Linked DNA regions of Homo sapiens. The protein of the gene in region 1 purifies or fractionates together with the protein of each later gene. This does not show direct contact. Each region holds a gene or a part of one and is shown on either strand. Other genes may lie near its edges.

What was found. Proteins that work in one complex are often made in the same cells at the same time.
Region 2: the proteins of MRTFB (region 1) and STK38L purify together in Homo sapiens (pull-down; one large-scale study listed by IntAct). This does not show direct contact.

What each region holds. Positions count from the first base shown.
Region 1 is NC_000016.10:14,242,319-14,245,818, reverse strand, and holds part of MRTFB (myocardin-related transcription factor B), read right to left. Parts: intron 292-3,500; coding exon 159-291; intron 1-158. UniProt on the Homo sapiens protein: Acts as a transcriptional coactivator of serum response factor (SRF). Required for skeletal myogenic differentiation.
Region 2 is NC_000012.12:27,320,786-27,324,285, reverse strand, and holds part of STK38L (serine/threonine-protein kinase 38-like), read right to left. Parts: intron 2,144-3,500; coding exon 2,052-2,143; intron 1,959-2,051; coding exon 1,831-1,958; 3' UTR 1-1,830. UniProt on the Homo sapiens protein: Involved in the regulation of structural processes in differentiating and mature neuronal cells.

The DNA of each region.
Region 1 (3,500 bases):
GTGGAAGTAAAAAGAAAATACCTTTTATAAAGATTATCATATTGTTGGTAAAGTTGAATGTCTACTGAAAACTACTTAATGTCTGCTAGACAACGCTGGCAAATCATTTACATGTTTGTGGTACTTAGGGGTGAATAAGCTCCAGTTGCAATTGTCACCTTTAAGTCATCCAGGCTAGAAGGCAGAGGTCCTGGCTTTCTCACAGGAGTAGATGTATTCTGTCTTGGTGTGTTAGGTGTGGCATTGTTCAAAGCTGAATTCCCACTGTTACTATTTTTGTCATTGAGTGGCCTTCAAAAGAAAACAAAAATTAGAGTTTATAATAAAATAATTTCTAGATTTGACATTGCTTCTATTAACAATTTGACTAACTTATGAAGAGAAAAATACCATGGTTATGGATTGGAAGGCTGAATATTGTAAAGATGCCAATTACATTAGATCTCAATGAAATCCCTGCAGGTTTTGTTTGTTTGCTAGCGTGACGGAAATTTAGAAGGCGATTCTAAGCTTTATATGGAAATGCAAAGGACCAAGAATGGCCATGAATCCTTGAAGAAAAGCAAAGCTGGAAGAGTCACACCACCAGACATCAACACGTAATTAATGTGTGATGTTGCTGATACAGGGACAGAACAACAGGCAAATGAGAGAGCCCCAGCAAATCCAGAAACGGCCCTCTGCATACCCGGACCCTTGAGTTACCAAAAAGAGGACACTGTGATGTAGTGGAGAGAGGGCGGGACTTCAATGGTGCCATGCTACGTTGGAAATTCACACAGAAAAAAACATGGCTCTTGACTGGCCCCATCTCACCTTGTTCCCAAAATCTACATGTGAATTATGAAAATAAAGCTTTCAGAAAAACACTCAGGATAGTATCTTCATGGCCTTTGGGTAGACAAAGATTTCTTAAACAGCACATAAAAAGCACTAAGTAAAAGGGACATCTTTAAGACAGTGAAAAGTCAAGCCACAGTGCAGGACAACATATCTGTAATACATATTTCTGACAAAGACCTCATATCTAGAGTATATAAAAAGGTCTTTAAAATCAGTAAGAAAGAGACAGAAAACCCAGTGGAAAAGTGGGGGGAAAAATCTCAGATGTATCACAAGAATGTATATCCCAATGGTCAATAAATAAGTGAAAGATGATTCAACCTCATTAGGTATGTGGAAATTGCAAATCACAACAGAATAGCCCTGCATTTTCAGTGGAATTGATATAATGAGTAAGACTGATACCAAGTACCTGGGACAACCAGAACAATCACACACTGCTGGCAGAGCTGTGAATGATGCAACTACTTTGCAAAACTGTACTAAAGAAAAACATCTTTTCTTTGAAACTTTTCTTTCGTAGTACTAAAGGAAAACATCTGCCTATCCTATGATCCCACAATTCCATTCCTAGATAAGACATCTAACAGAAAGACACATGTATGTATGCCAAAAGACACAGACTATTTACTGTGGGGTTATTCCTAATAGCCCCAACTGGAAGCAACCCAACTACGCATCAAGAGTAAGCTGGATGGCTAAATTATGTTATAGTCAGTCACGAAATATTAAACAACAACAACAAAAATGAACTGCTATCAGCACCAACAAAGATGCACGTAGGTGTACTGTAAGATTGCGTGTATATGAAGTTCAAAAACAGGCAAAACTGCACTTTGGGAGGCTGAAGCGGGCAGATCATGAGGTCAGGAGATCGAGACCATCCTGGCTAACACGGTGAAACCCCGTCTCTACTTAAAAATACAAAAAATTAGCCAGGCGTGGTGGCGGGCGCCTGTAGCCCCAGCTACTCGGGAGGCTGAGGCAGGAGAATGGCGTGAACCCTGGAGGTGGTGTGAACCCGAGAGGCAGAGCTTGCAGTGAGCCGAGATTGCACCACTGCACTCCAGCCTGGGCGACAGAGTGAGACTCTGTCTCAAAAAAAAAAAAACCCAAAACAGGCAAAACTAATCTCTGGGGATAGAAGTCAGGATGATCATGGAAAAGGGAGACAAAGGGGGCTTTTGGGGTACTGAAAATGTTCTTGGTTTGGGTATTGGATACAGGAGTGTATTTATTTTTGCATCAATTTTCACTTATAATTTACGTACTTTTCTGTGTGTAAGTTATACTTCAATTTAAAAAGCTTACTTAAAAGAAGTTGGTGCATCACTTGTCAAATTCTACTACAGTTAGGTGCTTTGTACTAATTTCCCTAAACTTTCAGTATTAAAACGAGATCCCCACCTAACATCTTCCAACTGTGATACTCTTGGTAACAGTGGTGTTTCCTTTCTGGATGGTTGCTACCGTACAGCCGATTCCATTGCAGCTTCAGGCTTTATTATCACACAAAGCCTTGGTGCTGAAGCCAAGAGACTTGGAATTCCACATTCTGAAACAGGGATTTGAGGTGACAGTGCCTACGGGGTGACAGCCATAGTTGGGTGAGCTTTCTCTGAAGAGTTCTGGGAAGCCTGTGGTTGAAGCCAATGCTGGCTTTGTCACTAGCTAACTCTTGACATTCATTTTGGGGTCTTCTAAAACCTGGCTGAATTTTGTTGAAGTTAAATAATTGAAATCTTTGGGATGAAGTTTCTTATCATTGGATGAAGTGGCAAATATTTTATGCATCATTATTATCCTTTATAAAAATTCAACTGTAAAATCTCAGAGTTATGAAAACATTTTCTTTAAATCAGTGTTTCTCCACCTTATTTTCATTCATTATTGTCCCCCGAAAGAGCCTTTTAGACATTTTTCTCCACATCTCTCTCCCCATGAAGTTTCAACACCACAGAGATAAAGCATGTGTTTATGGACCGCAGGTAAGTCTGTGCTTTATTACGTAAGAGTAGTCTCCCTGCTGAGCCACCTTTTGCTTCCTTGTGAGTGGTATTACCCCCTTGAAAATGAATGTAATTATTCTACTCAGGATGTTTTTTTTTTCCTGTTGAGATTCTATAATACTCTACCTATTAAAATGAACAGTTTGGTATTTTACTCAATCTTTAAAATAACAGAAACATGTTAATCTATTTTTCTCCCAAATCAATAGAGGGGAGAAAAAAGAGAGAGGTTGCTAACGAATGTGATCGGCAGATGAGAGACCTGCGTTCAGAGGGATGCAGTGGCCTTCGGGGACCTCCAGTGACCTCCCATTGTGCAGACAAGCTGGGCTGGACTAAAGCCTAGTCCCTTTGGGCGCTTGCTCCTTTGTGGTGGCAAAGGGCTACATGATTCAGGTAAACTCCCACCACTATGGGCACTCTATGACTTCCACATTCAGTTTCTTGTAATGGAATTTTGATAAATATAAACAATGCGTTAGGAAACAAGGCCTCCATTTTTAGGATCTGGAAATTGAACAGGACTTATATTCTTTTTGTGGTTAAATAATACACAAAAATAAGTGTTCTTTCTCCTTCTAATATCCTGGGTCTTTTTGTATGATACTATTCTTGGGTGAGCTTGGTTATTGTAGAGGTGCTGAATGT
Region 2 (3,500 bases), on another chromosome or scaffold:
GAAAAATTAGAGTTAGTCACATTGAGAAATCCCCAGTTTTTAATAGCTCTCTTTCCTAAATACTCAAAAAATCCAGACTAGAAAAATGGAAGTGAACTGTTAGATAAACACGTAAGTACTCAACAAATATTTAAAAAGAAACAAACCAAAAATGGGGGAGTTGGGGGAAACAGGATGGCCTTATGAAACACTGTGGAGCTACCCAGCAGCAACATTTATAAAAGCTTGTGTAGATTTGCATAATGCTCCTATGCAATTCTTCCCCATTAGGAAGACATTCCTACAAATAATTCATCACTTTAGATTTTGATCATAGATCATTTATAATGGTTATCATGGTTGTATCTTTAAAAAATTTCATCCATTAACAGTTATGACAAACATTAGGCCATTCTTTGCTAGTATATTATTCCTCAACTATTACTAATGAAACCAAAACCTCAGAGTTGTTTGAATTAGAATTAAAATATTAAGCTAGAAAAGATTATTTAATTCTTAGAGAGATACCCAAAGAATTTGATGCTGATATTATCTCCCCTATCCTCTCATCACAACCCCCTGGCCTGCATTTACTTCCTTAATTCCATCTATATTCACCACAGTGATGTAGCTAAACAAGAACAATATTGCCCTTTAATAAGCTGACCTCTATCAAAGATCTGTCAGGTCTGAATACAGCATGCCCACAGGAAAGGAAAATTCTACTCAGTTGTGAACATCCACTCTGTTCAAGATCTTTGGTACATTTGGAGCATAAGAAAATAATGGCACAATAATACAAGTACTATCAAAGGAAAAATTTTCATCAAAAGAAATAAAAGTTAACCAGCCATGATATGTAACAACTTTCTAGAAAACCAAAGTAAATAGCTTTTTGTTCTCTATAAGTCCATTTACATGATAGAAGTTTGACATTTAAAAAAATAGTTTAATAAAAATACACTAATTCTACAAGCAGCCTTCATGGTCATGTCTTAAATTCAACTCACCATAATCAAATTAAAATAATGCCATGTCCTCTTGTTAAAAAAAGAAGTTCTCTTGTCACAAGAAAATCAACTTTACATGTTATATAATACAGTACATCTCCCTATGAGTATACAGACTACGTATATGAAGGTCATCAGTATTTCTGAATGCAACGTAAATATATTAGTGGAGTGCTTGAGTGAAGGTGTTAAACTTTGTCTTCCTTATTATAAACTTGTCACTCCTTACTGTGAAGTTTGTGTAATAACTTGATGATAAATTCTATTTTGTAAAGAACCAGTGAATTTCTTTTTAAATCTCTTAAAACCATTACAGAAATTGTCTTCATATATATTCTACAGATGTCCAAACCAATAGGGCAATGTTCTAACACCAACTATGGAAGATGGCTTTTACTGATTATCTAGACCCATAAGATTTGCAGTAAAACATCAATACTGCAGTGTTACCTACAGGTTAGCCTATGTTGCTTTAAATGATATGTGTTTCTCCTGAATTGATTAGAGGTGTTACAGTTCAAAGCCACAGCACACACAGGCAGAATGGACCTTAATACGCATGTAGGCAGTGCAGTTAGAAAGGGATGTCTGTTCCTTTTATTCCAGTACCTTCATATAATAAAGTTAACAAAAATAATAAAATATTAAAAAAAAGAGCCAGCTGGCACTGCCAACCAATTCCTATAGTAGTCTTAGAAATCCTAATCCTGTAGAATTTCCTCTTGTAGTCAATAAGCACCACCATCTTCAGGAGTATTTCAGTGTATTGTTATCTACGCCAAGCAAGCCTGGTGATGCAGCTACCTGAGTTCTCTTGGTTATGGGTGAATGTTATCTTCATTCATAACTTCCCAGCTTTCATGTAGGTGGGGATAGAGCCACGTTGAGTCAACCCTTCAAACCTTTTATAGGTATAATTGAGAAAAACCCAGTCTTTGGATTTGTAGTCCGGTTCTGTGGTATTTGGCACTAGAAAGAGAAAAAATAAAGGAATTTCATTAGTGAAATGCCATCATCTTCAAAGACTTTTAATAGGGTTAGTTACATTACAGATTGTCTTACCTGGTTGTAAAATATCAGATTCAGGGAAGTCATCAAAATTTGAAGTATCATCAATGCTTTTGATTTCTATAGGGATTGCTGCTGGCCTTTCCCTATAAAAAGGTATTAAGTATGCATGGTAACTTTTCTTGAACTCTCAATTTCCAACAAATAATTCTACTTGTAAATTCTGCATACTATTCTACAGATACTAGAAAATCCAAGGAAATTTATTGTGGATTTGAGATTAGTTAAAGGGAGTTCAAAATAGTTGAGTATAATTTTTTATTAAAATGTTTTCATTTACTTAGAATTTTAAATATTTTTTTAATTTTTGGGGTTATGTGGTAGGTATATATATTTATAGGGTCCATGAGAGGTTTTAATACTGGCATGAAATGGGTAATAAGCACATCGTGCAGAATGGGGTGTCCATTCCCTCAAGCATTTATCCTTTGAGTTACAATCCAATTACATTCTAAGTTATTTTAAAATGTACAATTATTATTGACTATAGTCACCCTCTTGTGCTATCAAGTAATAGGTCTTATTCATTCTATTTTTTTTGTATCCATTAAGCATCTCCACCTACTTGCCATTTTTATATCTCTGTACCCAAGGCTTTCTCATCCTATTTTTTTAAGTGGAAAAATGAGCTAATGAAAAGTAAAAGAAGAGGTTTTATTTAAAAGATTGTATAATTGTATAAAGTATTTGAGATATTATGAGGACAGGATCCTTCTTAATTGATTTAGGAATAGAATTCTACTAGTAGACAATCCATAAATTAAAAGTCATTTGGGAAAATAAGGGGCACATAGGTGAAGGGACTATATATTTGTGATGAAATCTGCATGCAAAAACTTCTGTCATACAAATTTTAAGAGAATCAAAGATACTCAGTTAAAAAGAAACCAGTCATGAAAATGCCTTCTTATCATGCTAAAAAGTTTAGCTATACAAATGGTTAAAAGAAGCTATCAGTTTTTATTGCTTCTGTTTTTTCAACAAATATTTATTGGATTTATTAGGTGCTAAGTTTACCAAATTATTTAAAACCATATATATTTTTTACCAGAATTATTCCAACTCATTTATACTTAGTATACTACTTTAATAAACCTAGTTTAGAGGAAAGAACCCTGGAGGCCTGAGAGCTAACCTTCCTTGTTATTAACTAGCAGTATGACCTTAGGCAGCCAAATCCCTGCTCCATGACTGTTCCCTCATTATAAAACCAAAAGAACTGGCAGTCTCTAAGCATCCTTCCCACTGTAAAAGGGAGGGTATTCTAGTTCTATTCAATTAAGTTATGTGTGTATAGTATTATACAGCATAGTGGTTAAGAGTTAGGCCTCCACCAGGAGAATGGCGTGAACCCGGGAGGTGGAGCTTGCAGTGAGCCGAGATCACGCCACTGCACTCCAGCCTGGGCGACAGAGTGAGACTCCATCTCAAAAAAAAAAAAAA